Linked DNA regions of Homo sapiens. The protein of the gene in region 1 interacts with the protein of each later gene in a pairwise test. Each region holds a gene or a part of one and is shown in the gene's direction. Other genes may lie near its edges. The genes, in order: KLRK1, RAET1E, RAET1G, RAET1L and ULBP2.

Region 1 (6,540 bases):
GTATGAAAAGGAAAACAACAGATGACCCTCACTTATCAATTTTTATTAAAAACTAAGAAACAAATTATTAACAAATAGCATCTCTTTACAAGAATTAATTTAAGGAATGCAAAGTGCTATATGTAAAAATCCCTTTTTGGACTAAAATATTCAATTGTTACCAAAATTTAAAACACACATGCCCTTTCCCTCAACAATTATCATTGTGGGAATTTATCCCAGAGAGAGACTCAAAAATATGCACAGATGGGTATGAAATGTATCATTATTTCTCATAGCAAGACCTAAGAAACAATTTAAATATCCACTGGAAAAAAAAATTGACAGTCCGTCAAAAATTAGATCTGTCCAGAGTTGTCAGTGAAATACAATGCAGCTATTTATAAATTTGGTATCCTTATACGCCATGAGGACTAATCACCAGGATATTGTCTTAGGTAAAAAAAAAAAAAAAATTCATAGGATATTTTGTGTATTATAGTTTCTTTAAAATGTATTTTTAATATGTAGTTAAGGGGAACGGTAATTTTTGTTTATTTTTAGTTGGCATGTAATAATTATACATATTTATGGGATACAGTGATATTTCCATTCAACTATACAATGTCTAATGACCAAATCAAGGTAATTAGCACACCCATCACCTCAACATTTATCACTTCTTTGTGTTGGGAACATTCAAAACCTTCTCTTCTAGCTATCTGAAAATATACAATAAATTACTCTTAACAGTACTCTCCCTACAGTGCTATAGAACACTAGAAAAATCCCGCATGTAGCTGTAATTTTGTATTCATTAACCAACCTCTCCCAATCTTCTCCTCCCCCCTATTCTTTCTAGCCTTAAATAACCACAATTCTACTCTCTACTTCTGTGAGCTAAAAGTTTGTATCTCCTACATATGAGTGAGAACATGTGGTATTTATCTTTCCATGCCTGATTTACTCTACGTAACATTATGTACTTCTGACTCATCCATGTTGGTGCAAATAATAGGATTTCATTCTTTTCATTCTTTTTTTTATGACTGAATGGTATTCCTCTGTGTGTGTGTGTGTGTGTGTGTGTGTGTCTGTGTGTGCTTAGCTATTTATCTGTTAATGGACACAGGTTAATTCCATATCTTGGCTATTGTGAATAATGCTGCAATAAACATGGGGGTGCAGACGTTACTTCAATATACTGATTTCCTTTCCATTGGAGAAAGACCCAGATTGCTGAGTCATATGGTAGTTATATTTTTAGTTTTTTAAGGGACCTCCATACTGTTTCCATAATGGCTATACTAATTTACATTCCCACCAAAATTGTATAAACATTAGCCTTTCCCTGCATCCTCACTGTCATTTGTTATTTTTTGTCTTTTTAAATAATAGCTATTCTAACTAGGGTGAGATGATATTCATTGTGGTTTTGATTTTCATCTTCTTGATGATGAATGATGTTGAATTTCAAAAAATATATCTGTGGCTATTTGTATATCTTCTCAGAAATATCTATTCAGATCCTTTGCTCATTTTCAAATCAGTTTTTGTTGTTGCTGTTGAGTTGTTTGAATTCCTTGTATATTCTGGATATTGGTCTCTTGTTAGAGGAATAGTTTGCGAGTATTTTCTCTTATTCTACAAGTTGTCTCTTCACTCTGTCAATTGTTTCCTATGCAGTAGAGAAGTGTGTTAGTTTGATACAATCTCATTTGTTTCTTTTTGCTTTTGTTGCCTGTACTTTTGAATTCTTACCCATAAAATCTTTGCCTAGACTAATGTCCTGTGGTGTTTCTCTTATCTCTTCTAGTAGTGTTATAGATTCAGTTCTTATATTTAAGTCATTAATCCATTTTGAGTTGATTTTTGTATATGGTGTGAGATGAGGGTCTAATTTCATTCCTCTATGTGGATATCCAGTTTTTTCAGCTTCATTTATTGAAGAGGCTCTCCTTTCCCAGTGTATGTTATTGGTGACTTTCTGGAAAAATCAGTTGGCTATAATACATGGATTTATTCCTGGGTTGTCTATTCTGTTTTATTGGTCTAGGTGTCTATTTTTATATCAATGCCATACTGTTTTGGTTGTTGTAGTTTTGTCGTATATATTGAAGTCAGGTAACGTGATGCCACCAGTTTTCTTCATTTTTGTTCAAGATTGCTTTGGCTATTCAGTCTTTTGTGGTACCATATAAATTTTAAGATATTTTTCTATTTCTGTAGAGAATGTTACTGGTATCGTGTTAGGAATTGCACTGAATCTGTAGATTGCTTTGAGTCATATGATTACTTTAACAATATTCTTTCTGTCTATGAACATGAGATGTCTTTCCATTTTTTTGCATCCTCTTTGGTTTCATTCATCAGTATTTTACAGTTTTCATTGTAGAGGTCTTTCACTTGTGTGATTAAATTTATTCCAGGGTATTTTATTATTTGTAGGTATTACAAATGGAATTGACTTCTTGATTTCTTTTTCATCCAGTTTGTTATTGGTGTATAGAAACACTACTGATTTTTGTATGCAGATTTTTGATCCTGAAACTTTACTGAATTTGTTTATTTGTTCAAAGGCATGTTGTTTAATTTTCATGTATCTGTGCAGTTTCCAAAGTTCCTCGTTATCAATTTCTAGTTTTATTCCATTGTTGTCAGAAAATTTACTTGATATAATATTGACTTTTGGAAATGTTTTGAGACTTATCACCTAGCATATGGTCTGTCCTGATGAATGTTCCATGTGCTGATAAGAAGAATGTGTATTTTGCAGCAGTTGGATGAAATGTTCTGTACATTTAGTTAGGTTCATTAGGTCTATATTATAGTTTTACTCTGATGTTTCTTTTATGATTTTCTGCCTGAATGATCTGTCCATTGCTTAAAATGTGTTGTTGAACTCCCCTGCCCTTATTGTATTCATCTATTTCTCCCTTCAGATCTATTAATATTTACTTAATATATCTGAGTGCTGTAATATTGGGTGCATATGTATACTTATAAATACTATATTATATTGCTGAAGTGACCCATTTGTCATTATATAATGGTCTTCTTTGACTCTTTTTTACTCTTTTTGACTTAAAGTCTATTTTATCTAAGTATAGCTGTGCCTGCTCTTTACTGGTTTTCATTTTCATGGAATATCTGTTTTCATCCCTATACAGTCAGTCTATGTGTGTTTTTATGAGCAAAGTGGGTTTCTTGTAGGCAATATATTGTTTGGTTTTTTTTGTTTTTAATCCATTCAGTCACTCTATGTCTTTTACTTGGAGAATTTAGCCCCCTTGCATTTAATATTATTATTGGTATGTAAGAACTTACTATTGCCATTTTGTTCCTTGTTTTCTAGTGGTTTTGTAAGTCTTCCTTTCTTCCTGTCTTCCTTTGTGATTAAGTTGCTTTCTCTGGCAGTGTATTTTAATTCCTTGATTTTCATTTTAGTGTATCTATTATAGGTTTTTGTTTTGTGGTTACTGTGAGACTTACAAGGACATCTTATAGCTTATAGCAATTATTTTATACTGATGACAGCTTAACTTTGATCACAAAGCAAAGAAAAACAAAACAACAAAAGAAAAAACTAAACAACTCTACACTTTAACTCCATCTCCTCTCACATGTTGACTTATGTTTGTATGGATTTACATCATTTTATATTGACTATCTCTTAATAAATTGTAATTACTATTATTTTGATAGAGTTGTCTTTTGGTCTTCATAAGATCTGAGTGGTTGAGGCACCACAATTACAGTATTAGAATATTCTGAATTTGTCTGTGTACTTACTTTTATCAGTGAGTTTTATACATTCAAATGTTTTCTTATTGCACATTTGTGTTCTTTTTTTTCTGACTGAAAAAACTCTCTTTAGCATATCATGTAAGACAGGTCTGGTGGTAATAAATTCACTCAACTTCTGTTTGCCTGAGAAATACTTTTTCTCTCCATCATGTCGATAGTTTTGCTGGGTACGGTATCTCAGTTGGCATTTTGTTTTCCTTGGGTCTTTGAATATGTCACCCCACTTCCTCTTGGCCTATAAAGTTTCTGCTAAGAAGTCTGCTAACAGATGTGTTGAAGCTTCTTTATATTTATTTTGCTTTTTAAATTTTGCTTCCTTTAAAATTCTCACTTTGTCTGGAGCTTTGAACATTTAAATTTTATATGTCTTGTGGTGATCTCATTTGGGTTGAATCTGCTTGCTAATCTTTGACCTTCCGGTATTTGGTTATTCATATCTTTCTCTGGGTTTGGAAAGTTTTCTGTTTGTCCACAGCCTCCCAGACCAGTGCTGTGCCAGGGCTTGCCCAAGGGCCATGGTTGCTATGGCCTGCAACCACTGAAATTTTCTTGGGACCAAGGCCACTTTAGTCAGCTGGTGATAAAGTGGGCTGAGACTAAGGTTCTTCCTGCCTAAGCAGTGGATTCACCTCTGGCCCACGGTGGGTCAAAATGCTCCCCATATGAGCACTGGTTTGGAATCAAGGGCCATGGGGTCTCTGTCTTTTGCTGTGTTCCAATGTGGTGGGGCCAGGTCTAAGTTCCGACACAAAGTCCCACACTCTTATTTCCATTTCCCAAGCAGGCAGTTTTTCTCTAAGCACTGCACTATCTGGGTTTGGAAGAGAGGCGTTTAGGCAAGGCAAGACCATCTTTTCTTACCTCTTTAATGTGTTTTTTCTCGTTATCATGCTAAAATCAGGGTACTGTGATAGCGCACCTAATTTCTTGAATTCTTTTGAAGGTATTTTCTTGCATGGATAATTATTTAATTTGATGTTTCTGTGAGAAGATAATCACTAAAGGGTTCTTCACAGCCAGCTTGCTCTTCTGCCATTTTCTTAATTGTTTTCTGATATACCTGTTGTTTTGCCTACCCATTGATTTTTTTCTCCTCTATCATTATTTATCTTTGTGGTTTGGTGGTTCTCTGTAGCCATAATGTTTGATTCCTTTCTCTTTCTTATTTGTGTATCTGCTCTACCAACCAGTTTTATACTTTTGTGTATTTTTATGATGATAGATATTGTCCTTTTGCTTCCAGATATAGGACTCCCTTAAGCATCTCTTGTGGGGCTAGTCTAGTGGTGATGAATTCCCTCAGTTTTTGCTTGTCTGGAAGAGTATTTCTCCTTTATTTCTAAAGGATAGTTTCGCTTAATACAGTATTCTTGTTTGGGAGGAGGTATTTTTTTTTTTTGGCATTTTGAATATATCATCCCATGCTTTTCTGGCCTGCTGCTGGAGAAAGTGGGATTGCTGGCAGTGGTGGCACTGGGCTCCAAGTGAGTGGCTCTGGGAATCTGGGGGGGCGCATGCATGACTCTCTCTATGCTGAGGACAGACTCTGTGCTTGGCTGCATCTCCTGTTCCCTGGGCATAGGGCTCTGTATAGGCTTGATGCAAGGGTCATGACTACACCTTTGGTTGGGATCACCTGGTGTGGCTATGCTACAGTCCTCTAGGTGGATTTGGTGGAATGTCAGCAGGGCCCCAGGGATGTGAAGATGCATAAGCTATTGGGCCCCAAACATGCGAAGATAAAGGAACTATTAGGCCCCAGGGCAGAGCGTACTTTGGTGGTGGCTACACTCTCAAAATGGTGCAGTGCTGCTGCAGCCTGTGTTCCAGAGAAGAGGAGGGACCCCAGTGTGAATTCCCACTCTGGAATAATGCAGTTATGTGGATGTCAGTGAACTCCCTATACTGGACTCAGGGATCGTGAGGAATGTGGAGCTCTCCTATACCTAGGATAGCAGGTATTTATAATGGGAATGTGGACTGCTGGGGAGCTCCTGTTTACCTTTTCTCCTCAGTGGAGAGTCCCTCTTGGCTCCAAGCTGATCCATGTCACCTGCTTCTCTTCCCTTTCTATGCTATCGCCCTGAGCATCTGTGCCTCAGAGAGACTTGGTCACTTTCTTGCTGAATTCCAGCCTTCTCCCTTCAACACTCTATTCAATGTGTGGTTATCTACTTGTTGTTTTGGTCCTTTGTGGAAGTGAGTGCTGGGTGCCTGTAGTTAGCCATCTTGATGATGCTTCCTCCTTCTTTATGTTTATTATTGTATCTGCATAAAAATAATAAATCACGGCCGGGTGCGGTGGCTCACGCCTGTAATCCCAGCACTTTGGGAGGCCGAGGCGGGCGGATCACGAGGTCAGGAGATCGAGACCGTCCTGGCTAACACGGTGAAACCCTATCTCTACTAAAAATACAGAACATTAGCTGGGAGTGGTGGCGGGCACCTGTAGTCCCAGCTACTCGGGAGGGTGAGGCAGGAGAATGGCGTGAACCCAGGAGGTGGAGCTTGCAGTGAGCCGAGATCGCGCCACTGCACTCCAGCCTGGGCGACAGAGCGAGACTCCGTCTCAAAAAAAAAAAAAAAAAAAAAAAACAATAACAACAAAAAATCATAAGCATAATTTACTCTAGGGATGACTGGGGAACTTGTAGAGAAGTATAGAAGGAAATATTACATTGTTGTACTCTAGTTTTTGATCATTTGCGAGGTATTTATGTTCTGTTCTGGAAAAAATTATTAAGGCAGAAAAAG
Region 2 (5,758 bases), on another chromosome or scaffold:
TGGTCCAGAAGGGGCTCGTGTGGTGGGTGGTGTGATGGCAGCAGGAACCCAGGGAGTGAATATGCTGAGATAGGAAGGGGTCCCACCCACAGAGCTGCAGGCAAAGGGGTCCCACCTTAATCCCTGGTGGAAGGTGACTGAGAAGGACTTAACTGCCCCAACCAAGCAGGCTGGGACTTCAGTGCCATTGACAATAGTGAAGGGGATTGGTGAGTAGGAAGGGAGGCAAAAGAACAGTTTTAGAAGCTGGGTCTGAACAGTAGGGATTTAAAGGAGGTGGGACCTCCATAGACACCTGGGAGTTCCTGGCCTCTAGCCTCATCCTGGTAACCGAGTCGGCTGCTGAAGGGCTTCCTGTCTGGGCAGGAGCAGGCAGGGATCAAGCGCCGGTGGAGGTCAGTGCCCACAGCTGAGCTGAACAGAAGTGGGAGGCAGAGTGGGCCTGGGGAAAGGTGTATTACAATTCAAGGGGAAAAAAATATATCTGCCACCCTTTGGGGAGGGCCTCCCCACTGTGTCGCATGGATTTCTCTGTCACGGGGAAGAGCAGCACCCAGGGAAAAAGAGCTTTGTGTGCCCATGACACATTCCTATTTTGTTGTCTCTGGCATTTCTGGGCATTGTTTCTGCTGAAGTGACAGAAGAGAGAAAAAGCTGATCAAAGCTAAATGACAGAGCAAAGGGGTTGACAGGGAGTGTCTTTTCAAATACACAGGGACATTCACCAAGAAGGGCCATTTTTGGATCATAAAATAAATCTCATCTGGGCGTGATAGCTCACTCCTGTAATCCCAGCACTTTGGGAGGCCAAGTTGGGTGGATCATTTGAGGTCAGGAGTTCGAGACCAGCCTGGCCAACATGGCGAAACCCTGTCTCTACTAAAAATACAAAAATTAGCCGGGTGTGGTGGCATGGGCCTGTAATCCCAGCTACTCGGGAGGCTGAGACAGGAGAATCGCTTGAACTCAGGAGGCGGAGTTTGCAGTGAGCTGATATTGCGCCATTGCACTCCAGCCTGGGTGACAGAGTGAGATTCCATCTCAATAAATAAATAAATAAATAAATCTCAACATATGTAAAGGGTTAAAATCATGCGAAGCATCTTGTCCAAGCACAATGGAAATAAACTAGAAATCAACAGCAGGAAGCTATCTGGAAAAATCCTCAAATGTTTGGATATCAAATAATATGCTTCCAAATAACTATATATCAAATTAAAAAGTACAAGGAAAACTAGAAAGTATTTTGAAATGAATGAAAATGATAATACAAAATATCAAAATCTATCAGACACAGATAAGAAAATGTCTAGAGGCATCCACACTGAACTTTTTGATCTCTGAATCACCGTGCATCATTGCTGCCAAATTTTTTGCTCATGCTCATCTCTGCCTGGAATTTTCTTTCTTACCTGACCGAATTCCAGACAGCTATCCAAGTCCAGTTTAACTGTCACCTCCTCTAAGAAGTCACCATTCTTCCTGGATAGAATTAACTACCCCCACTCGTAGCTCAGAAACTCTGACCACAGAAAAATTATCACATTGTTTTATGATTGGGTGTATGTCAGTAAATTGATGCGCTTACTTGAGGACATTACTTTTGTAACCTGAGAATCTATCATGGCTGCTATATAGTAGACGCTCAGGACATGTGAGGACTTGAGTGGCAGCGGAGGTAAGGGTCATCTCCTGGGTATGGAGCTTGGACAAGAACCTGCACTCTTCTGTTCCATTTCACCTCAACCATCCATGTCCCCAACCACATCTCCACCATCCTACCTGTACCAAGTGCTAATCCTTTGAATCATGTCAGTGACTATCTTCAGCTCAATCCCAATCACAGGTCAGGAGGGAGGGCATCAGGTATACTGTGAGCAAAACAGAGTATGAGATGGGGCCAACTGGCCTCTGGATTAGGGGCAGGGCTTGTCCTGTATGAGGACAGGGAGAAATGAGGTTGCTAAGTCTCCCCAAGACCCCTGCCAAATCTCACCATAGACATAAGATGAGGTGAATTTCATTTATCGCCTGGGCATTCACGACCTGAGAGGCTTAGCTCTGGGTCAAGTTGAGCCCTCTCTGTCCCTGGCCAACAGGAGAAAGGCAAAGGCTGAATGAGTCTCGGGGACTGTCTCTGCTTTGCAAGTGGGCCCTGAGGTGAACAGGGACCTTTCCAAATTAATGCATCCACAGCGGTTTGGCAAAGTCGGGCTTTAAACCAGGGTCACTCTCCAGGGGTTGCCTATGTGATGGGTGGTCTGATGGACAGAAACACAGAGGGTGGGCAAGACACAATTTTGGGTGGGGCAGCAGCTTGATGATCTGACCATCTGACCATGGGAAAGTATATCACATGCCAAAGGTTGAGGGGTCTCTAGGTTTAATTCCTAGGAGGACATAATGAAGAAGGCTGCCTGGGCTCCAACAAAGCAGGCTGGAGGCAGGGCCACACAGACCGTGGGAGAGGGGATTGTGAGCAGAAGGGAAGGCTGAAAGTGAACCCTAGACACTCTGTGAGGACAGCAAGGACTAGAAGGTGGGATTCCTTTGACACCTGGGTTTCTGGTTCACCCCTGACACAGGAATCCTGGCAAATGGCGTCGTGCCAAGCCCCACCCTCAGTGCTCTGGACCTGCCGCAGGGATACCCTTGCCCACAGCTGGAAGACTCTTGCCCCCGCTGTGGGCCTTCCCACTGTGTTCCCACTGATACTTTGCCTTCCTTGGCTCTGAACCCCTAAAATCTCTGCTGGGGTCTGGGTCTAACTAATGATGAAGTAACGGAAAGTGAACAATCATAAACTAGATGACAGAGAGGCAGAATGTGAACAATAGCGGCTGATCTCTCCCTGAGAGAGAGGTGGGATCTGAGTCCTGAGAGATCACGGAGGGGTCAATCCTGAGCTGATCTGACCCAGGGTTCTGCACTCTTTTGTCTCCTTCCTAAAGGCAGAAGATCCACCTAGAGGTGATACCACGGCGGCGCAGAGTTGTTCACCTGTGGTCCTCGATCGCTGACAGCCTTGGCTCCCACTGCTGTGTGTTCCCTGAGTCAAGTGGAGGCGGAGCCTGCAATGAGCGGAGATCGCGCCTCTGCATTCCAGTCTTGGCAACAGAGCAAGACTCCGTCTCAAAAAAAAAAAATTTTTTTTCAGTACATATTTTTTAAAAGATAGGGCTGGGCACAGCAGCTCACATCTATAATCCCAACACTTTGGGAGGCCTAGGCAGGAGGATCACTTGAGCCCAGGAATCTGAAGCTGCAGTGAGCCTTTGCTCGTGAGATTGTGGACCTATGATCCTACCACCAGCCCACCTGGTTCTAACACCCCCTCCTCTATGTGTGAGAGGGAGAGAAGAAAAGTGAGGGAGAAAAGAGAGATAAGCAAAGAACAGAGAGGAAAAATGGAAAATAAGAGGAAATTGGGGGAATTAAACAGAGGGGAGGGCATGGATCCCCGGGAGTTAGAAGAGTAGCAGCTTGTGGATTACTACGCAGTGGAGGAAGAAGAGTTGTTGGAAATTATTTGAGAGGTAGTATAATCATTTGTGAGGCAGTTTTCTGCATTCACCATTTCTCACAGACTAAGTTACTCATAAGCAAACGTGCAATTCACATTACACTGAAATTCTTCCCTAATACATCATTTGCATTGGAATAAAGTACGGTTTTCAAACAACCTGATATAGCAGAACTGACTGTATAAATTATGTGAGCACAGTGCAAGTAATTCTTTGTTTGTTTGTTTGTTTTTTTGAGACAGAGTCTCACTCTATCTCCCAGGCTGGAGTGTAGTGGTGCGATCCCGGCTCACTGCAACCTCGATCTCCCAGGCTCAAGCGATTCCCCTGCCTCAGCCTCCTGAGTAGCTGGGATTACAGGCATGAGCCACCACGCCCGGCTAATTTTTGTATTTTTAGTAGAGACGGGGTTTCACCCTGTTGGCCAGGCTGGTCTCGAACTACGGACCTCAGGTGATCTGCCCCCCTCAGCCTCTCAAAGTGCTGGGATTATAGCATGAGCCACTGAGCCCAGACACAAGTAGTTCTTTCTGATAAACACTTTAACACTGAATGCAAAAAAAAAAAAAAAATTGTGTGTGTACTTTTTTTAATTTTACTTTAAAATAGACACACCAAACATGTTTCTAAATAAATGTAATATGGAAATCTTTCTTTTTCTCCTCCATTCTCAGTGATGATATGGTTGTAAATTCTTATCATCTGATAATTTTTATCAGATCTTTACAAATTATAAACTTATTTGCAACTCTGTTTTCAGACTATCCCTTCTATTATGATCATGAAACTGAATTAAATAGGTAGCTATTTTTTTGACTTTTACTCCTTTATTTTTATTTTCATAGTTTTACAAGAATATAATATATGTAATCTGTCTTCCATTTTAAACCTAAAGTCTTCCTAATCTCTTCTTCATAGTTTCAACAAACATAAAGGTAACAATTCAAAGCACCTGTCGCTTCGACAAGAAGATATTTTACATATTTAAAAAAACAGATAACAATTTTAAAATACTTGCTATAAGAATAAAATTGTATTTAATAAGTAGAACTAAAATTTTGACTGATGTTGCAATAGATTTGGTGGGGGCTTTTTTTGTGGGTCTTTTTTTTTTTGAGTCAGGGTCTTGCTCTGTTGTCCAGGCTGGAGTACAGAGGTGTGAACGCAGCCCACTACAGCCTTGAACTCCTAAGCTGAAACGATCCTCCTGCTTCAGCCTCCCATACTGCTGGGACCACAGGCATGAGCCATCCCACCCAGCTAATTTTCAGATTTTTTTTATAGATATGGGCGTTTCACTATGTTGCCTAGGCTGGTCTCAAACACCTGGGCTCAGGTGATCCCCTGCCTCAGCCTCCCAAATCGCTAGGATTACAGGCATAAGCCTCTGTGCCTGGCCTCTTTATTATCATTATTATTTTATATTTTCAAACTAGGAAAAAAGCTATGCAGTAACAGAAAATTCTAGTTATATTTAAAACAGGATTGTAAGAGAAACATGTTAATGTAATTTTGGTTTTCTCTTTTTTATAATTTTAACATTTTAGATTCAGGGAGTACATGTGCAGTTTTGTTACATGGATATATTGTGTGACACTGAGGTTTGAGATATGAATGATCTCATGTAGTGAGCAGCAGCACAGTACTCAATGGCAGTTTTTAGTCCTCGCCCCTCCATCTCTCCCCTCCTCATAGTCCCCAGTGTCTACTCTTCCCATCTTTATGTCCATGTGTACCCAAAGCTTAGCTCCCACTTAAGAATGAGAACATGCAGTATTTGGTTTTCTGTTCCTATATTAATTCACTTAGGATAATGGCCTCCAGTTGCATCCATGTTGATCCAAAGGACACAATTTTGTTCTTTTTTATGGCTGCATGGTATTCCATGGTGTATATGTGCCACATTTCCCTTATCCAATCCACAATTGATGGGCACCTAGGTTGATTCTACGTCTGCTGTTGTGAATAGTGCTGCAATGAACATGTGAGCATGTGTGTCTTTTCGCTAGAATGATTTCTTTTCCTTTGGGTATATGCCCAGTAGTGAAATTGCTGGTCAAATGGCAGTTCTGTTTTAAGTTCTTTGAGAAACCTCTGAACTGCTTTCTGCAGTGGCTAAACTATTTCACATTTTCACCAGCAGTGTAAAGTGTTCCCTTTTCTCTATAGCCTCATCACCCATATGCTATTTTTTTACTTTTTCCCCCCAAAGTCTCAAGTTTTATTTAAATAGC
Region 3 (6,974 bases), on another chromosome or scaffold:
ATTCAGGTCTGTTTCAGACTGTGTCTCTGGTCATAAGGAACCCCCACGGTGCGTGGTGTGCAGACAGCAGGAGCTCAGGCATGTGCGGTCCTCACATTTGAGTGGGGCAGCAGATTGGTGGCTCCAGATGCTGTGTGTCAAGGAGAAGGAGATTCCATCCACTGGAGAAGAGCAGAGGAACTGGGTGTAACCCCAGGAAGGAGAGGCTGCCAAGGACTGTGTCGACCCAGAGGACAATGCTGGAGTTAATTCCCAGGGAAGGTGCCTGGGTCACAGCCTTTAAGGCAGACGCTGACTGAAAAGACTGTATACAAGTAGGAGGTCAGGTCTCTGGGAACCCTCAGAATACGGCTCAGTCCTGGGGCAATGCCCCTGCCATCCGGCCTCCTGCACACTCCAGATTCTGGCCCTGCCTGGAGCAGAGCTGACTCGGAGACAGGGGTACTGAGCTGCTCCTGGAGTTCCAAGGTCACTGCTGAGCTGGACCAGGAGTGGATGGGGCGGGGCAGGGACAGTCTCATTCAGAGCTTTGGGTACAGCCCTAGGGTGAGAAGAGGCTGAGAGAGAAGGGGAAAAGAGGATATTGCCTGAGTGGCTGGGGGCAGAATGGGACCCAGGGGCTCTGTCCAGTCCTCACCCTAAGCTAAGCCCTTCACAGCTGCCAGGAACCACTGGGACCCTCACCTGTCTCTGGCTTCTGCCACCACTTCCAGATGCCCTCATGATAATTAAGACAAGGATACAATTGGGGTTTCCTTTTGAGGATGGCCGCAGGGACCGTCCAGGGACTGAGCAGAGGTGTGGGTGCAGCCATGGATCCAGGCATCAATGGTTGGCCACAGATGGGTGTACTGCAAAGTGAGCTCCACGCACGCACAGACCCCTCCCTTGCCTCCTGCTCCCATGGGAAACACAATTGATCACATTCCAATTGAGCAACAGTAGGCCACTAGGGCTTTTTTCCCTCAAAAGCTGTACACAGATCTAGTATAGTCTCAAAGACCTCATGCTTCTAGTAGAGAAGCAAAGAAATGTGTGAGCATTTGTCACACAGGGAGATCCGGATACGCTCCATCACTGTGGATCCAGGCCTCAGGGAGCAGGAGGGTGTTCCTTCATGTGGGAAGATGAGGGACACACATGGGAGGGGGTATTTGTGCGCGGCTTGGAAGGATGGCTGGTCCTTGCCCAGGGGGAACAGGCCCAAAGCAAGCGCTGGCAGTTAGTAGCTATGGGGAGCTTTCATTTGAACCTGCTCTGCTGAGTCCCCTGGGCCATCCCCACACCTGGTGGGGCACTGTTCTAAGGGGAGCTCAGGGTCAATCTCTCTGATGTGCTTTCTAAATCAGCAAGGTGCCTCACAGGTTGTGATTTTAGAGACAAGGTTTTCAATGCTTTGCATTAAAATGCAAAGATTTTAATGAGCAGAGTCTTTTTGCCAATCCGAATTGGGCAGATCCCAGCAAGACACATATTTTTAAGATAATTTTTAAAGCTGTTTAATTTTGGTAAAAAAGTAGAACATAAAATTTACTATCTTAACCAATTGTTTAGTGTACAATATCTTCTTTGAAGCTTCTGAAGACCTGGTGCTTCTGTAATAAAATCTAGCCCCGGGCCAGGCGTGGTGGCTCACCCTTGTGATCTCAGCACTTTGAGAGGCCGTGTCGGGCCGATCACTTGAGCCCAGGAGTCCAAAGCCAGCCTGGGCAACATGGTGAAACCCCGTCCCCACTGAAATACAAAACTTAACCGGGCTTGGTGGCGCGCACCTGTGGTCCCAGCTACTTGGGAGGCTGAAGCAGGAGAATCGTTTGAATTCGCGAGGCAGAGGTTGCAGCGAACCCAGATCGCGCCGCTGCACTCCAGCCTGGGCGGCAGAGCGAGACTCTGTCACGAAGAAAAAAAAGAAAAGAAAGAAAAACCAACCAACCAAACAAACAAACCTAGCCCAGGCTATAACCACGTCCACTCGGGATTTGGGATGAGGCCGCGGGGATGGGACTGGGCTTGGATCTGCGCACAGGACGGTGGGTTGGGAGCACTCTGCAACGCAGGGAGAGGGAAGGCGGGTGTCGCAGGTACAGGCGAGGACAGGGAGACCCTGTCGCGGCTGAACACTTCTGTGCATTTTCTTCACCTTTCTGTGCATCGGTATCCACATTGGATTAATACAAAATGAAAAAATTGCGGTGATGATTACATGAGGGGGTCATGGAAAGAAGCCTTTGGCAGGACTGGTCCCGGGCAGGCAGCCAGCAAAGTCTGACTGGCTGAAGCAGGGGGAAGTGCGCGAGCGCTGCAGTAGAAAGTGGGGTAGACTTGGATGAGCAACTTGGCTGAGAGACACCTGATTGGCTAGCGGCTCAGCAAAGGGGGTGTGTTTCCTCCGAGGGGCGGGGCAGAAGGAGTGCTAGAGTTTAGGGCTTACTGGAGTTTAGGGCTGCATTCAGACGGGCTGCATTCAGACAGCCTGCGAGCCGCCAGGTGATCCACGGGCTGGGCTTCGCTTCTGCTGTCCCCTGCGATCCAACTCCCCAATGGCAGCGGCCGCCAGCCCCGCGTTCCTTCTACGCCTCCCGCTTCTGCTCCTGCTGTCCAGCTGGTGCAGGACCGGGCTGGCCGGTGAGTTCGGGGATGGAGCCTAAGCGGGGCGGAGGCCAACCGTGGGGGGCTGTGGACTGTGGGCTTCAGAGGAGGGGAGGCTTCTGGAAGGACCCGTGCGATCACCCCGGACTGCGCCCCCGCTCAGTTTCCCTCCGCGTCTCCTTCCCGCCGGGTCCGTTCCCAGAGGCTACTTATCCTCCGAGGGGAGGAGCTGGTCAGAGAGGAGGCTGGAAAGGAACCCCCGGAGAGTGGAGGGGCCAGAGGGCTGCAGAGGGCGACGTGGAGCGGGGATCCCTAGTGCAGCCCGGCAGTCCCACCCGCCCTCGGGAAGGAGAAACCAGAGCCCCCAGAATCCGAGCTGGGGTCAGGACAGGGGTGAAGTGGGGTTGCACAGGGACACAATCACAGACACTCCCACCAGCCACCAGCCTGCTCTGTTCTCACCCGCTCTCAACCACACAAACCTTCCAGCACCCCCAGGGCTGCGTGCCCTTGAATTTTTCCCTGCACTTTCCTGTAGACACTCACCTGCACCCAGCGGCTCAGCAGACACTTCCCACCCTCCCCTCACCATCCACTGCCACCACCCAGGTAACATCCTCTTACTCCCCACCTCAGCCCAGCTGGTCACCCCAGAGGTCTCCCCATCCATGAAGGGGCCCTCGCGACCTCTTACACCACGTGACACCTTCTGCCTCTTGCCTGAGGACACACCCCAGCAAACACACCCCAAGCTCCCCACAGAACCTGTGCAGGGGGGATGGGAAGCACCATTTCCTCCAGGATGACCCTGGGAACTCTGGTGAGTAGAGGCACCCACTTCTGCCCTTGGGGCCCAGACCTGCCTGTTCTTCCTACTGGGGCGCCAGCATCATAGAGAATAGTCAGTGTGTAGACAGGGGTCAGCAAACCCTTTCTAGAAAGGGAGGAAGGATGCCCTGTGATCTTTGCAGGCCTTGGGTTCTCCGTCTCAGTGTCCAGTCCTGTCCCTTTGCAGAGCAACAGCAGGCAATGGCAACCTTCAAATAGGGGGGACCAGATTTGGACCCTGTCCTAGGTTGCTGACCCTAGATGAGGGGATTACAGTGTACCAGCAAATAGTACCCCATCCCCTATGGTGTCATCTCCAAGTGGTGTCTCAGGTGTCAGTTGGAGAGTAGAAGGTGGTCCTACCTTGCCTGTGGCTTCTGGGTGGTGTGGATGTGATGGGAGTGGGGGTCCCATGGTTCAGGGTCTACTCTCCCCTCCTTTGCTGCTGAGTGGCATCTATGGTCCACGGGGGCCATCAGTGACCTTCCCTGAAACCTGAGGTGTAAGCTGAGGGTAAGGGGGTGCAGCCACGTGGTGTCCTGGGAATCGGGGCCAACTGCTTGTGCAGCTTCCCGGTTCCCTGTGGCCCTACTTCTGCCCATCCCAGGAGAACCACCTGTGTCTTCTCACTGCCAGACCTCTCTTCCTAATGACCTAGAGGGTGAGGAGCCCACCCGTAATGGGCAGCTCTGAGGCTGGATGGTCACGGCCCTTCCATGGCTAAAGGCCCCATCTCTGCCAAGGCCCAGTACTCTACAGGAGACACTTTTTAATGTTGAGATTTCCTTGCTGTGAGTGGCGTTGCCTTGCCTCTGAACATTCACATGGAATCTATGTTGTGATTCTCCAATTAGACATTGGAACCACATGCACCTCTAGGATCTTAGGGGGTCTTGGGTCATTGGGCACTTAAGGCAGGTCCAGCCTCGCTCATTCATGGATTGCCTGTGGCTGCCTTTGCGCTTCAACAGCAGAGCTGAGTAGTTACAATGGAGAATATATTCCCTGCACACCTTTACATGTTTACAAAATTGCCCTTCATAGCAAACTCTAGTGGCCATAAATACGTTTGGAGAAGCCCACAAAGAATCATTGCACTTGTTGCGGGGTTAAAGGGTCCTTCCTCACTGGAAACTGGTGTCTTCTTCTAGTCATGGGTTCACGGTCTGAGAAGTGGCTTTATTCTGCAAATTAGGCAAAGCAGCCTTGTTCTTGAAGGACTGGCTACTTTCAGCCTCCTGGTCATCCATCATTTGTTTTATCTCTGTTTCTTGTAATTATTTAAATCCAGCACTATTCAGGTTGGGTTTCCATCTCTTCTGGATCTTGGACCCCTTTGTTCTATGAGCCATGGGCATAGCTTTGTATGACTGAGGTCTCCAGCTGGCATTGTGACTTCTCTAATCATTTCCATCATTGCACCCTCCTTGTTCCTGACAGTTGACAACCTCCACCTGGAATCTGTTATTTCGGGATTTTTCATCCCATTACTACTGGGAGCCCATTTCAGGAAGAGCATCTCCTACCCCCAACCCTGGCCTTCAGCAATAGGCATCCCTGAGCTTCATCCCATTCTGGTGCCTTCTCATGGGGCCTTCTTTATATGCCAGGTAAACAGGAGTCCTCCAGGCTTCCCATGAGCACAGCAGATGGACATTGTTCTGGATTTTCACACTCAGACCCCTCCAGCCTGGGCACTTCTCTGAGCCTGTGATCCCTCCGTCTACTGCCTGCCTTAGATTTTCAGATTTTTCTATTTCTTGCTGTGTGGACCATCCCTTTGTCCAAGGTTTCAGGAAGGCATCCTCATAGTAGATGAGCACCACCACCAGGGGCTTTGCCAACGTGTTAAATCCTGTGACCATGATAATTAACTCTTCTTTATCCAACTGGGTTCCATCCTCACTCCGTCCCACCATGCACCAGTATCCTCAGGTGCAGCTCCCACACCCTGTCCCACCTCCCACAGTCCACGTGGGCTACTGCTGAAGATCCTCTGTCATCCAGGCCCTTCCTCCTCTAGCACTCCTGGCACCTCTCTAGCAAGGTCCTGTGTTGACCGATGTGGACAGAGGGGCAGTGGGACATGTCTGGGGACATGTGGTTTCTCAGCAGGCAGGGACCTCCTCCTCCTCTTTGCCCTCATGGAAGTGGGGAGCACTCGCCTTAATCTTGTGGACACCACAGTTCTGGAGGAGGCACTCCTTGCTGGGCCAGCCCAGCCCTCCAGAGGCTTCCTCTTATTGTCACAGTGTGGAGGAGGGGTATCTAGGGGTCTTTTCCTCCCCACCCACCCCTCACCTGCCTTTCTCCACAGACCCTCACTCTCTTTGCTATGACATCACCGTCATCCCTAAGTTCAGACCTGGACCACGGTGGTGTGCGGTTCAAGGCCAGGTGGATGAAAAGACTTTTCTTCACTATGACTGTGGCAGCAAGACAGTCACACCCGTCAGTCCCCTGGGGAAGAAACTAAATGTCACAACGGCCTGGAAAGCACAGAACCCAGTACTGAGAGAGGTGGTGGACATACTTACAGAGCAACTGCTTGACATTCAGCTGGAGAATTACATACCCAAGGGTAAGTTTCAGATGGCCCAGGACAGCAGGGAGCAGATACAGTGGTAGGTTAGAGGCATTTATAGTTTTCATGTAAAAATACAAATAGGAAGGTCATCTCACCCCGCAAGACGTCTAGAGGCAAGGCCAGGATGTGGCAGAGCAAGTAAGACCAGGAAATTGCAAGTGGAAGAGGATGGGGGCTCAATATCTGTCAAGGCCAGAGCTGATCTCTCTTTGATGGGGGCAGAACCCCTCACCCTGCAGGCCAGGATGTCTTGTGAGCAGAAAGCCGAAGGACACGGCAGTGGATCTTGGCAGCTCAGTTTCGATGGACAGATCTTCCTCCTCTTTGACTCAGAAAACAGAATGTGGACAACGGTTCATCCTGGAGCCAGAAAGATGAAAGAAAAGTGGGAGAATGACAAGGATATGACCATGTCCTTCCATTACATCTCAATGGGAGACTGCACAGGATGGCTTGAGGACTTCTTGATGGGCATGGACAGCACCCTGGAGCCAAGTGCAGGAGGTAACAGGAGAAAAAGAAATGGGGATCTCCAATGAGATCAGAAATGGGGATCTCAAGAAACTAATTCTTGAGTTCAGCTTCAATCATCCCAGTGTACACGTTTATGTTAAAATGACCTCCTCGTGGGGTGCTCCTCCTGGGGGTGCTGGCGTGCCTGTGCTCTCCCACCCTCCTCTTCCTTCTCCCTCCTGACTCCTCTTCCTCACTGCACTTGCTTCTGTTCCCCACACTGTGGATTTCTCACCAGCCTCGAAACTGCAGGTGTCACTATTTTCAGGCCTTTCTCCTTAGTGTTCCCTCTTGAGAATCACTTTTCCTTTCCTCCTCTGGTCTGTTTCTGGAAATCCATCAAAACCTCCTCCAAGGCCAGCCTCGTGACCCTCCCCTCCCGCACCCTGGAGCATCACCTCCTCTTCCGCCACAGCAGGAGGGTGGGCTTTGCTGTCACCTTGCTTCCCTCAGCAGC
Region 4 (7,323 bases), on another chromosome or scaffold:
TCTCCAGCCCTCTCACTGCTCTCCTCCTGCCATTACTCCTTCGAGGACCAACACAGTGATGGTGGCCACTGCTGCTGGGAACCTGGAGCCAGGAGGAGGACAGCCCAGGAGGAAGCACAGTGGCAATGCTGAGTCTCGACCACGTCCCCCAGGCTTTTACAGGGCTAGGTTCGGCAGGTTCCCAACCACCAGCTGGAGCCAGTCCACGCCCCACCCACCTGCTCTTTCTCCAGATCCAGAGGAATCGCTCTGACCCTTTTTTTGTATCTGCCCCTCACCCCTTCTTTTCTCCTTCCCTTCCCTCCTGACCCTTCCTTTTCCCATTTCCATTCCTGATTTCAGGCTCGTTCCTTTAAACAAAGTTTAAAGGGCAAGGTTTTCCTGCCCCAACCACTCACAATTGTACCCTCTGGGTTCAATCAAAGGGGCTAAAGAGAGCAGCTTGCTGTCCTTCTTCAATAATGTTTTCTAGATTTTATCCTGCTGGGGCCCAGACCAGCTGCAAACCAAAGTTATTCTTCCTTGGAAAATCTTTGTGGCCGCCCAGGCAGGCATTCACATTTCCAAATTGTGCCAGCAGTGAGGTCTCCAACCACGATATCCTCACCTTCAGGCCTCTGGGGGTTACAACCTCCACTCCAGCTCCACTTCTGCACCTGGGGTTTTCCCCTGAGCCCCATTCACTCCCACAACTGTCTCATTCATTCAGTCATTTGCTCAGCCTCCAGCCACCCTTAAATCATGTTAGGCTTACCTGGTGATGGAGAGTAAAACCACCGTCCTCTCTGGGTCCAGTCTTTGCCTTCATTTACACCCATTCAAAGAGCCCCCAGGGCCATGAAGAGGCCATGGCATGATCGCAGGGCTCCAGCTGTCATCTGGTTGGGTCTGGCCTTTGCTGATGTTATGGAAGGCAGGGCTCACATGTGAAATAGGAAACCTTCCCTGAGTCCTTAGCATGTGCAAGGACAGGGTTCCTGGCATAAACTGCTCATTTCCTCTGTGTTCATAGTATTAATTTCCACATGTGGACATCCATGCCCAGAAAGGTGAAGAAACTTGCACAAGAATATTCAGCCACAATGCCAGCTGACTTCCATGTCTGAATGCATGCTCTCTAGATCACGGCCATTATAATCACCTTTCAGCCACGTCTATCCCCATCCTGGGCTGGCCTGAATCTGGTGGCCGAGAGTCTGCAGCAGGTGTGAGGCAGGAGGGCCCAGGTGTGCACAGAGTCCCCTCCTACTGTCACCTGGCTGTGCTGCCTGGGACTCTTCTGCCAGGCTTCTGCCTTCCTCCTGTTCCCCCAGTCCCCCGGTCACTGGCCCAGGTCACCCAGCCTCAGGGGTGGGGGCTGCCAGGGCCTTCCCAGTACCCTCCTTTCAAACGCTCCTGTTCCCAGCCCTATGCATGGGAGGCACTTCTCACACACAGATCCCTGGACCTGCCAAGCTCTGCCCCTCTCAGATCTGAGAACTGCCCACCCCCGTGTGTCTGTTGTCCTCCAGACCACCCTCCACATGGCCCCTCCTGGACAGAGGCTCTAGTGCATCAGGCCAGAAACTTCTAGGCTCCTGTGTCCCTGCACAGTCACAGAGGGGCTGCTATCCCATCCCCCTGTGCAGAAGCAGAGACAGTCCCTGGGCTTGGTCTAGGCCTCCTCCCCTTTCCCGCAGCCTCAGGGCTCTGGGGATTGCTGGTCACCAGGTGTGCATCCTCCCCACATGACAACTGTGTGGAGAAGAAGGTCTGTGTCTATTTTACTCATTTAATAGGGAGAAGGCTGAGTGGCTGGGGGCAGTGTGGGACTCAGGGGCTCTGCCCATTCCTTATCCCAACAGCCAGGGATCGCTGGGCCCCCCACCTCCCTCTGCCTTCTGCCCACAGGTCTAGATGCCTTCATGGTGACTAAGACAAGGGGGCACTTGGGGTTGCCCCTTTGATAATGAGTCCAGTGACCATCTAGGGGCTGAGCAGAGGTGTGGGTGCAGCCATGGATTCAGGTGTGGTTGGCCACGGATTGGTGTGCTGGAAAGTGAACCCCACACGTGTGTAGACTCCTCCCTCGGCTCCTGCTCTTCGTGGAAACACAATTGATTACATGATTGAGCAAGTTGTTCACTAGGTCTTTTTAGGAAGGGATGTAGTATATTCTCAAAGACCTCATGCTTCTAGCAGAGAGGCAAAGAAATGTGTGAGCAATTGTCACACAGGGAGATCTGGATGCACCCACTGTGAACCCAGGTCTCAGGGAGCAGGAGGGTGTTCTGTATTGTGGGAACATGCAGGACACACATGGGAGGGGGTATTTGTGCCCGGCTTTGAAGGATGGCTGGCTCTTTGCCCAGGGGGAAGAGGCCAGCAGAATGCGCTGACAGTTGGGAACCACTAGGAACTTTCAGTTGAACCTGCTCTGCTGAGCCCCCTGTGCCATCGGTGGACCTGGGCCAGGGCGGCTGCTGAACTGGGAGCTCAGAGGTAATCTCTCTGAGGAGCTTTCTAAATCAGCAAGCGTGTCACAGGTTGAGATTCTAGGGATGAGGTCCTCAATGCTGTCCTCGATTTTAATGAGCAGCCTTTTGGCCAGTCTGCACTGGGTGAAGCAGAAGCAAGACATAAATTGTTAAGATAATTTTTAAAGCTGCTTAATTTTGGTAAAAACATAGAACATAGAATTTACCATCTTCACCAATTGTTTACTATACAATATGTTGTTTTGAACCTCTGAAACCCTACCTGCTGTTTCTGTAATAAAACCTAGCCCAGGCCGGGCACGCTGACTCATGCCTGTAATCCCAGCACTTTGGGAGGCCGAGGTGGGTGGATCACCTGAGGAAAGGAGTTTGAGACCAGCCTGGCCAACAAGGTGAAACCCCATCTCTACCAAAACTACAAACAATTCGCCGGGCTTGGTGGTGGGCACCCGTAATCCCAGCTACTCCAGAAGCTGAGGCAAGAGAATCGCTTGAACCCAGGAGACAAGGCTGCGGCGAGCCGACATCGGGCCGTTGCACTCCAGCCTGTGCAATAAGAGAGAAACCCCATCTCCAAATACATAAATAGATAAAGAAATAAAAAATAAAACCCAGCCCGGACTGTAACCACGCCCACCGGGGACTGGGGAAGTAGTGGAGGGGACGCGAACAGGCCCATGGCTGTGCCCAGGGCGGGGTGAGCCAGGGACCCCGCGGCGCAAGCGGAAGGAGGGAGAGTGCCGCGGACCCAGGCGGGGACAAGGAGACGCCGAGGCCGCTGAATATTCCTCTGCACGTTTCTTCACCATTAATAAAAAATGCTATAATGATTAAATGAGTCTGTCGTGGAAGGAATCGTGTCCTGGCAGGAGTGGGGCCCGGGCACGAGGCCACCAAGCTGCCGGAGCGGGTGAAGAAGGGAAGGGACACTAGCATGGAAACTGGATTTCGTCCAGACAATGAAACGAAGAGGTGGAACGCGCCCAGTGACTACGCCCAGTAGCATTAAAATCTGGCTTTTCAGAATCGAGGTGACTCATTCCCCGGTACATTCCCCAGTAACTAACAGTATATAAGCCAGCCTTTCAGCACAGAGGTGATTTCATCTTCCAGGATCCACCTTGATTAAATCTCTTGTCCCCAGCCCTCCTGGTCCCCAATGGCAGCAGCCGCCATCCCAGCTTTGCTTCTGTGCCTCCCGCTTCTGTTCCTGCTGTTCGGCTGGTCCCGGGCTAGGCGAGACGGTGAGCTGGTGGATGGAGCCTAAGCGGGGCGGGGGCCAAACCTGAGGGACTGTGGACTGCAGCGGGTTTCAGAGGAGGGAAGGCTTCTGGAAGGACAAGGGAGATCTCCCCGAACTGCGCCCCCAGCTCAGTTCCCCTCCTGGGCTCCTTCCCGCCGGGTCCACTCCCCAAGGCTGTTCTTGCCCCAGTAGGGGCGAAAAAGAGCAGGGTGAAAACGAGGCTGGCAGGAGGGTGGAGGGGCCAGAGGGCTGCGAGGGCTAGGTGGGGCCCGGATTCCTAGTGCAGCCCGGCAGTCCCACCCGCCTTTCGGAAGGAGAAACCAGAGCCCCCCCGGGAACAGAGCTGGGGTCAGGACTGGGTGAAGGGGGGTACCACAGGGATACAATCACAGACGCCCCCACCAGCCACAAGCCTGCTCTGCTCTCACCTGCTCTCTACCACACAAACCCTCCAGCACCCCCAGGACTCCCTGCCTTTGTTTTCCCCGCACTTTTCCTGTAGACACTCACCTGCACCCAGGGGCTCAGCAGATACCCGCCACCCCTCCCCTCACCATCCACTGCCACCACCCAGGTCACATCCTCTTACTGCCCACCTCAGCCCAGCTGGTCACCCCTGAGGTCTCCCCATCCATGAAGGGTACCTCACCACCTCCTACACCACGTCGCACCTTCTGCCTCTTGCCTGAGGACACACCCCAACAAACACACCCCAAGCTCCCCTCAGAACCTGTGCAGGGGGGATGGGAAGCACCATTTCCTCCAGGATGACCCTGGGAACTCTGGTGAGTAGAGGCACCCACTTCTGCCCTTGGGGCCCAGACCGCCTGTTCTTCCTACGGGGGTGTCAGCGTCATAGAGAATAGTCACTGTGTAGACAGGGGTCAGCAAACCCTTTCTAGAAAGGGAGGAAGGATGCCCTGTGATCTTTGCAGGCCATGGGTTCTCCGTCTCTGTGTCCAGTCCTGTCCCTTTGTAGAGCAACAGCAGGCAATGGCAACCTTCAAAGAGGGGGGACCAGATTTGGACCCTGTCCTAGGTTGCTGATCCCAGATCAGGGGATTACAGTGTCCCAGTGCCCCATCCCCTAGGGTGTCATCTCCAAGTGATGTCTCTGATGTCAGTTGGAAAGTAGAAGGTGGCCCTACCTTGCCTGTGGCTTCTGGGTGGTGTGGATGTGATGGGAGTGGGGGTCCCATAGTTGGGGGCTTATTCTCCCCTCCTTTGTGCTGAGTGGCATCCATGGGGACCATCAGGTACCCTCCCTGAAGCCTCAGGTGTGAGCTGAGGGTGAGTGGGTGCAGCCACGTGGTGTCCTGGGGATCAGGTCCAACTGCTTGTGCAACTTCTTGGTTCCCGGTGGCCCTGCTCCTGCCCATCCCAGAAGAACCACCTGCATCTTCTCACTGCTGGGCCTATCTTCCTAATGACCTAGAGGGCGAGGAGCCCACCAGTAATGGGCAGCTCTGAGGCCTTCAGGAATAGGCATCCCTAAGCTTCATTCCATTCTGGTGCCTTGTCATGGGGCCTTCTTTATATGCATGGCAAAAGGCCCCATCTCTGCCAAGGTGCAGTACTCTACAGGAGCCACTGCTTAATGTTGCGATTTCCTTGCTGTGAGTGGCATTGCCTTGTCTCTGAATATTCACATGGAATCTCTGTTGTGATTCTCCAATTAGACATTGTGACCACATGTACCTCTAGGATCTTAGGGGGTCTTGGGTCATTGGGCACTTAAGGTAGGTCCAGCCTCGCTCATCATTCATGGATTGTCTATGGCTGCTTTTGAGCTTCAACAGCAGAGTTGAGTAGTTACAATGGAGAATATATTCCCTGAACACCTTTACATGTTTACAAAATTGCCCTTCACAGCAAACTCTATTGGCCATAAATATCTCTGGAGAAGGCCACAAGGACTCACTGTCCTGGCTGCAGGGTTAAAGGGTCCTTCCTCACTAGAAACTGGTGTCTTCTTATAGTCATGGGTTCAGGGTCTGAGAAGTGGCTTCATTCTGCAAATTAGGCAAAGCAGCCTCGTTCTTGATGGACTGGCTACTTTCAGCCTCCTGATTTGGTTTATCTCTGTTTCTTGTAATTATTTAAATCCAGCAGTATCCGGGGTGGGTTTCCATCTCTTTTGGACTTTGGACCCCTTTGTTCTATGAGCCATGGGCATAACTTTGTATAACTGAGGTCCCCAGCTGGCATTGTGACTTCTCTAATCATTTCCATCATTGCACCCTCCTTGCTCCTGACAGTTGACAGCCTCCACCTGGAATTTGGAATTTCAGAATTGTTCATCCCATTACTCTGGGAGCAGATTTCAGGAACAGCATCTCCTACCCCCAACCCTGGCCTTCAGCAATAGGCATCCCTAAGCTTCATTCCATTCTGGTGCCTTCTCATGGGGCCTTCTTTATATGCTGGGTAAACAGGAGTCCTCCAGGTTTCCCATAAGCACAGTGGATGGACATTGTTCTGGATTTTCACACTTAGACCCCTCTGGCATGGGCACTTCTCTGAGCCTGTGATCTCTCCCTCCACTACCTGCCTTAGACTTTCAGATTTTCCATTTCTTGCTGTGTGGACCATCTCTTTGTCCAAGGTTTCAGGAAGGCCTCCTCATAGCAGATGCATGCCATCACCAGGGGCTTTGCCAACATGTTACATCCTGTGACCATGATAATTAACTCTTCTTTATCCAACGGGGTTCCATCCTCACTCTGTTCAACCAGCACCAGCATCCACAGGGGTGGACCCACACCCTCTCCCACCTCCCGCAGTCCACGTGGGCTACTGCTGAAGATCCTCTGCCATCCAGGCCCTTCCTCCTCTCTTGCTAGAGAGGCCTGGCACCTTTCTAGCAAGGTCATGTGTTGACTGATGTGGGCAGAGGGGCAGTGGGACATGTCTGGGGACATGTGGTTTCTCAGCAGACAGAGACTTCCTCCTCCTCCTCCTCCTTGTCCTCATGCAAGGGGCGAGCACTCGCCTTAAACTTGTAGACACCACAGTTCTGGAGGGGGCACTCCTTCCTGGGCCAGCCCAGCCTGCCAGAGGCATCCTCTTATTGACACAGCGTGGAGGGGGGCTAACTAGGGGTCTTTTCCTCCCCACCCACCCCTCACCTGCCTTTCTCCACAGACCCTCACTCTCTTTGCTATGACATCACCGTCATCCCTAAGTTCAGACCTGGACCACGGTGGTGTGCGGTTCAAGGCCAGGTGGATGAAAAGACTTTTCTTCACTATGACTGTGGCAACAAGACAGTCACACCCGTCAGTCCCCTGGGGAAGAAACTAAATGTCACAATGGCCTGGAAAGCACAGAACCCAGTACTGAGAGAGGTGGTGGACATACTTACAGAGCAACTGCTTGACATTCAGCTGGAGAATTACACACCCAAGGGTAAGTTTCAGATGGCCCAGGACAGCAGGGAGCAGATACAGTGGTAGGTTAGAGGCATTTATAGTTTTCATGTAAAAATACAAAAGGGTCCTGGGCACGGTGGCTCACGCCTGTAGTCCCAGCACTTTGTGAGGTAGAGGTGGGCCGATCACAAGGTCAGGAATTCGAGACCGCCTGACCAACATAGTGAAACAC
Region 5 (5,401 bases), on another chromosome or scaffold:
ACTTAGGAGGCTGAGTGAGCCGAGATCGCGCCACTGCACTCCATCCAGCCTGGGTGACAGAGCGAGACCCTTTCTCAAAAAAAAAAAAAAAATACAAATGGGAAGGTCATCATACCCCTCAAGAGTCTAGAGGCAAGGCCAAGATGTAGCAGAGAGAGTAAGGCCAGCAAATTGTAAGGGGAACAGGATGGGGGTGCAAAATTTGTCAAGATCAGAGCTGATCTCTCTCTGATGGGGGCAGAACCCCTCACCCTGCAGGCAAGGATGTCTTGTGAGCAGAAAGCTGAAGGACACAGCAGTGGATCTTGGCAGTTCAGTTTCGATGGGCAGATCTTCCTCCTCTTTGACTCAGAGAAGAGAATGTGGACAACGGTTCATCCTGGAGCCAGAAAGATGAAAGAAAAGTGGGAGAATGACAAGGTTGTGGCCATGTCCTTCCATTACTTCTCAATGGGAGACTGTATAGGATGGCTTGAGGACTTCTTGATGGGCATGGACAGCACCCTGGAGCCAAGTGCAGGAGGTAACAGGAGAAAAAGAAACGGGGATCTCAAATGTGATCAGAAATGGTGACCTCAAGAAGTTAGTTCTTGAGTTCAGCTTCAATCATCCCAGTATACACATTCACGTTAAAATGACCTCCTCGTGGGGCGCTCCTCCTGGGGTTACTGGCATGCCTGTGCTCTCCCACCGTCCTCTTCCTTCTCCCTCCTGACTCCTATTCCTCACTGCACTTGCTCCTGCTCCCCGCCCTGTGGATTTCTCACCAGCCTTGAAACTGCAGGTGTCACTGTTTTCAGACCTTTTTCCTTAGTGTTTCCTCTTTTGAGAATCACTTTTCCTTTCCTTTCCCTGGTCTGGTTCTGGAAATCCATCAAAACCACTTCCAACGCCAGCCCAGAGATCCTCCCCTCCCCAACTCTGGGGCATCACCTCCTCTTCCCCCACAGCAGGAGGGTGGGGTGTGTTGTCACCTTGCTTCCCTCAGCAGCTGTGTGAGCTCCCTGAGGACAAGACTCACCCCGTCTCCCTTCCTAAGCCAGGACCTGTCATACTGGCTGCCCCACACCAGGGGGGAGAGGACAAAACTTTTGCCTTCCAGGATGACCTAGGGTGGCAGGAACTGAGGAGGTGTCTCCTCAGATTTGGGGCCTGGACAAGGGTTGTCACTTTTGTGTTTCCATTTCAGCACCACTCGCCATGTCCTCAGGCACAACCCAACTCAGGGCCACAGCCACCACCCTCATCCTTTGCTGCCTCCTCATCATCCTCCCCTGCTTCATCCTCCCTGGCATCTGAGGAGAGTCCTTTAGAGTGACAGGTACTGTGGGCAGAATTGGAAGTGGAGCAAGGAGCAGGTGGGTGAGGAGGCAGGATGGGGAAAGAGAATTCCCGGAGTCCCGCCCCTCCCCGTGGCTGGGACCTTCTCATCCTAACATGAGACAGGTGAATGAGACCTTGTGTTGCCTGTTGGCAATGTTGGCAATGACCTGGGCAGCTCAGCCCTGAGTTCTGATGGATTCTCACCTTCAGAGTCCAGAGGGAAAGGGAGGGGCCCATACCAAGGCTCAGGGTCTGTTGAGCTTGAGAAGGTTTAGCAAGTTCAGGCCTGATTCAGAGCAGGTTCCTATTCAGGAAGGGTGTGTGGCCTGCAGGCAGCAGGAATTCAGACATGGGCAGTCCTCTTAATTGGGTTAGGTGCATCATGGTAGCTTTACATGAGGTGTGACAGGGGAAGGGGGATTCCATCTCTGAGGCTAAGAGAGATCTGGGTGTAATCCCAGGAGGAGGGGGCTGGGAGAACCTTGGTACACCTAATTGAAAAGGAGGGAGTGCAGGGCTGCCTTCCCACAGAAAGTGGCTTGGGTTCCAGGAATTAAGGTGGAAGGTGAAGAGTAGAGGCTGCTCAAGAGAAGGATTTTTAAAAAGTCAGTCCCATGGACATGTGCAGCTCGAGTCTGGGCCCTGAGGCAGCTCCCCTGCCATCATCCTCCTGCACACCCCAGATCCTGAGCCCACTGATGGCCCTGCCTGGAGCAGAGTGGACTCAGAGGAAGGGGGGTCTGAGCTGCTGCTGGGGTTCCACAGGCACCACTGGGCTGGACAAGGAATTGATAAGGTGGAACAGGGACAGTCACCTTCAGAGCAATGGGTGCTGCTCCCAGTGTGAGGAGAGGCTCAAGAAGAAGGGGAAAGAAGGATGTTTGCCTGCAGGCCCACCAAAGGCCAAGGGCACAGGAATATGGAGCCCTCTTTTTGGAAGTCTGCCCCACCCCTTGCCTGTTTTAGGCCTTCACATCAGATCATAGAGAGGGCCTTGAGTGAGGGCGCGGACCCATCACTACCAGCTTCAGACCTGCAGGCCCCTCCACTCCATCCCCTGGTCAGGTGCAGGGCCTGGGCTGACTCTGTGATGTGACAGAGGAGGAAAGAGGTAGGTCCAAGCTGCAGTCGCCAGGGTTGAGGCTCAAGGGAAAAATAGGTCCCTTAGTGCAGGGGGCTCTGAGACATAGAGTGACTAGGGAAAGATTACCCTGGAAAAGTGATCCGGGTTCTCTGCCCCTTAAACCAACATTTGTGTCCTTTCTGAAGGTTAAAGCTGATACCAAAAGGCTCCTGTGAGCACGGTCTTGATCAAACTCGCCCTTCTGTCTGGCCAGCTGCCCACGACCTACGGTGTATGTCCAGTGGCCTCCAGCAGATCATGATGACATCATGGACCCAATAGCTCATTCACTGCCTTGATTCCTTTTGCCAACAATTTTACCAGCAGTTATACCTAACATATTATGCAATTTTCTCTTGGTGCTACCTGATGGAATTCCTGCACTTAAAGTTCTGGCTGACTAAACAAGATATATCATTTTCTTTCTTCTCTTTTTGTTTGGAAAATCAAGTACTTCTTTGAATGATGATCTCTTTCTTGCAAATGATATTGTCAGTAAAATAATCACGTTAGACTTCAGACCTCTGGGGATTCTTTCCGTGTCCTGAAAGAGAATTTTTAAATTATTTAATAAGAAAAAATTTATATTAATGATTGTTTCCTTTAGTAATTTATTGTTCTGTACTGATATTTAAATAAAGAGTTCTATTTCCCAAAAACCTACGGTGTTTAGAATTTTGTTGTATTACTCAGTAGGGAATTAATGTTATTTCATTTTTCCTCCATGATATGGAGTAATAAATGAGTGATTCTACCAGATTTTGTGTGGAAAAAGAGAATCTACAAAACATGGCTGAGAAAAATCAGAGACAACACAAATACATAGAAAAATATTTCATGCTCATGGGTTGGAGAATCAATATAGCTAAAATGGTCATACTTCCAAAAGCGATTTATAGATGCAACACTTTCTCTATCAACACCAATGTCATTTTTCACAAAATTAGAAAAATCTAATCTAAAAGGTATTTGGAATTAAAAAAGAGCCCAAATAGCCAAAACAATCATAAGCAAAAAGAACAACGCCAGAGGCATCACATTGCCTGACTTCAAACTATAATATAAGGCTACGGTGATCGAAACAGAATGGTACTGGTACCAAAATAGACACTTAGATCAGTGGAACAGAATAGAGAGCTCAGAAAGAAACCTTCACACCTTCTAACCTTCAACAAAATCAACAAAAATAAGCAATGGGAAAGAGTCCCAATTCAACAAATGGTGCTGGGATAACTGGCTAGCCATGTGCAGAAGAATGAAACTGAACCTCTACATTTCACCATATATGTAAAATAACTCGACATGAATTAAAGATTTAAATGTAAGTCCTAAAACTATAAAAATCCTGGAAGATAACCTAGGAAATGCCACTTTGGACATAGGGCCTGGCAAAGATATCATAATGAAGACACCAAAAGTATTTGCAACCAAAAACAAAAACTGACAAATGTGATCTCATTAAACTAAAGAGATTCTCCACAGTAAAAGAAATTAGCAACACAGTTAACAGCCTATAGAATGGGAGCAATATCTGCAATCTATGCATCTGGCAAAGCTCTAATATCCAGAATCTACATGGAACTTAACAAGCAAGAACAAAATTGCAATTAAAAAATAAGCAAAGAATGTGAACAGACGCTTTTCAAAAGAAGACATGCAAGTGGCCAACAAACATGAAAAAATGCTCTTTGGGAAGCCGCAGTGGGCAGGTCACAAGGTCAGGAGTTTGAGACCAGCCTGACCAACATAGTGAAACTCCGTCTCTACTAAAAATACAAAAATTAGCCAGATGTGGTGGTGCATACCTGTAACCTGTAATGGTGCATAGTCTGATGTTGGAACTATGAAGTACCTTGGACTGGTACTTTATAGTGTTTTCCAGCAGACAGCACTGCTTATTTTTCAAATATTTCAATAAGTCGGGAGGGTTTGCTGACAGCGAGTTTGTGCCCTGAGCTCTTTGGCACTGAGGGCAAAGAGCAGAGGGGTGTGGTCTGGTGGCCCAGCATTTCTGCCCCGGGGGAGGATTCTCTTCTGCTGCAGTGAAAACCAACAGGACGCTGCTTCATCCCAAGGGGACTAGGAAGATAGGTCAGAGTGAGGAGCTTTCTGAGTGTTTCAGATCACACAGTGACTGCCTGCTTGATGGCTTCAGAACTCCTTCATTAGCTGGGAGACAGCCCCCGAGGTAAAAGGTGCATGGGCACGATGGGCTCGACATGACAGCTTTCGAGATGACAGGCAGTTTCTCCCGTGTGTTTCTATGTGTCTTTGTGTGTGCCCGTGTATGTGCATGGCTGTGTCTGTATTTCTGCATGCATTTATGTATGTGTGTTTGTTTGTGTGTGTGTGTGCCTGTGTGGTGTGAGTGTGTGTGTGTGACTGTGCCTGCATGTCTCTGTGTGTGTGCATGTGTGTCTGTGTGTGTGTGTGATAACATGCATATATGAATGGTGAATTGATTTTCTGCTTGATTTGCTATGGAGGGAGACAGGGACTCCAGGGGGGGTTCCTGCCCACCCCTTGTTCCCTGTCTTCTGACATTCCCTCCTCCCTGTGGAAAGAGTCTACCCCAGTAACTGAGGGTTCGTTAGTGCAGACGTCTCACAGCTCTCCAAAGTTCTGTGATATTTGTATCCCCAGGCCTCCTCCTCATGCTTGTCCATCTGCTGGATGCCCTGTCTTCTCGAGGCCACCTGGCCACGCTGTATTCTTCCTATGCCTACAAGAACAGTCTGAAATGCCATCTCCTGAGAAGCCTCCATGCAACTCTCCAGGCAGAATGAGTTACCCCCTCTTCTGCCCCCCGATAGCCCCAATGGCGGCGAGGACATCACATCAGCAGCAGCAGCCATGTGGGTGTTTGTTTCTGTCCCTCGATTCTAAGTGACTTGAGGACCGGACACATCCATCACCCACATGTAAACCCAGCACCTAGCACAATGGTTGCCATAC

Evidence for each region.
Region 2: the proteins of KLRK1 (region 1) and RAET1E interact in binary tests that used the Homo sapiens proteins (3 or more experiments, as listed by UniProt).
Region 3: the proteins of KLRK1 (region 1) and RAET1G interact in binary tests that used the Homo sapiens proteins (3 or more experiments, as listed by UniProt).
Region 4: the proteins of KLRK1 (region 1) and RAET1L interact in binary tests that used the Homo sapiens proteins (3 or more experiments, as listed by UniProt).
Region 5: the proteins of KLRK1 (region 1) and ULBP2 interact in binary tests that used the Homo sapiens proteins (3 or more experiments, as listed by UniProt).

Annotation. Positions count from the first base shown.
Region 1 is NC_000012.12:10,379,901-10,386,440, reverse strand, and holds part of KLRK1 (NKG2-D type II integral membrane protein), read left to right. Parts: intron 1-6,540.
Region 2 is NC_000006.12:149,881,698-149,887,455, reverse strand, and holds the end of RAET1E (retinoic acid early transcript 1E isoform 1 precursor), read left to right. Parts: 3' UTR 1-2,951; coding exon of another isoform or gene 2,952-2,968; 3' UTR 2,969-4,277; downstream 4,278-5,758. UniProt on the Homo sapiens protein: Binds and activates the KLRK1/NKG2D receptor, mediating natural killer cell cytotoxicity.
Region 3 is NC_000006.12:149,918,577-149,925,550, reverse strand, and holds the start of RAET1G (UL-16 binding protein 5 preproprotein), read left to right. Parts: upstream 1-2,429; 5' UTR 2,430-2,540; coding exon 2,541-2,625; intron 2,626-5,734; coding exon 5,735-5,998; intron 5,999-6,042; exon of another isoform or gene 6,043-6,226; coding exon 6,227-6,508; intron 6,509-6,974.
Region 4 is NC_000006.12:150,021,785-150,029,107, reverse strand, and holds the start of RAET1L (UL16-binding protein 6 precursor), read left to right. Parts: upstream 1-3,575; 5' UTR 3,576-3,636; coding exon 3,637-3,721; intron 3,722-6,864; coding exon 6,865-7,128; intron 7,129-7,323. UniProt on the Homo sapiens protein: Binds and activates the KLRK1/NKG2D receptor, mediating natural killer cell cytotoxicity.
Region 5 is NC_000006.12:149,946,131-149,951,531, forward strand, and holds the end of ULBP2 (UL16-binding protein 2 preproprotein), read left to right. Parts: intron 1-241; coding exon 242-523; intron 524-1,189; coding exon 1,190-1,299; 3' UTR 1,300-1,321; exon of another isoform or gene 1,322-1,326; intron 1,327-2,592; coding exon of another isoform or gene 2,593-2,597; 3' UTR 2,598-3,105; downstream 3,106-5,401. UniProt on the Homo sapiens protein: Binds and activates the KLRK1/NKG2D receptor, mediating natural killer cell cytotoxicity.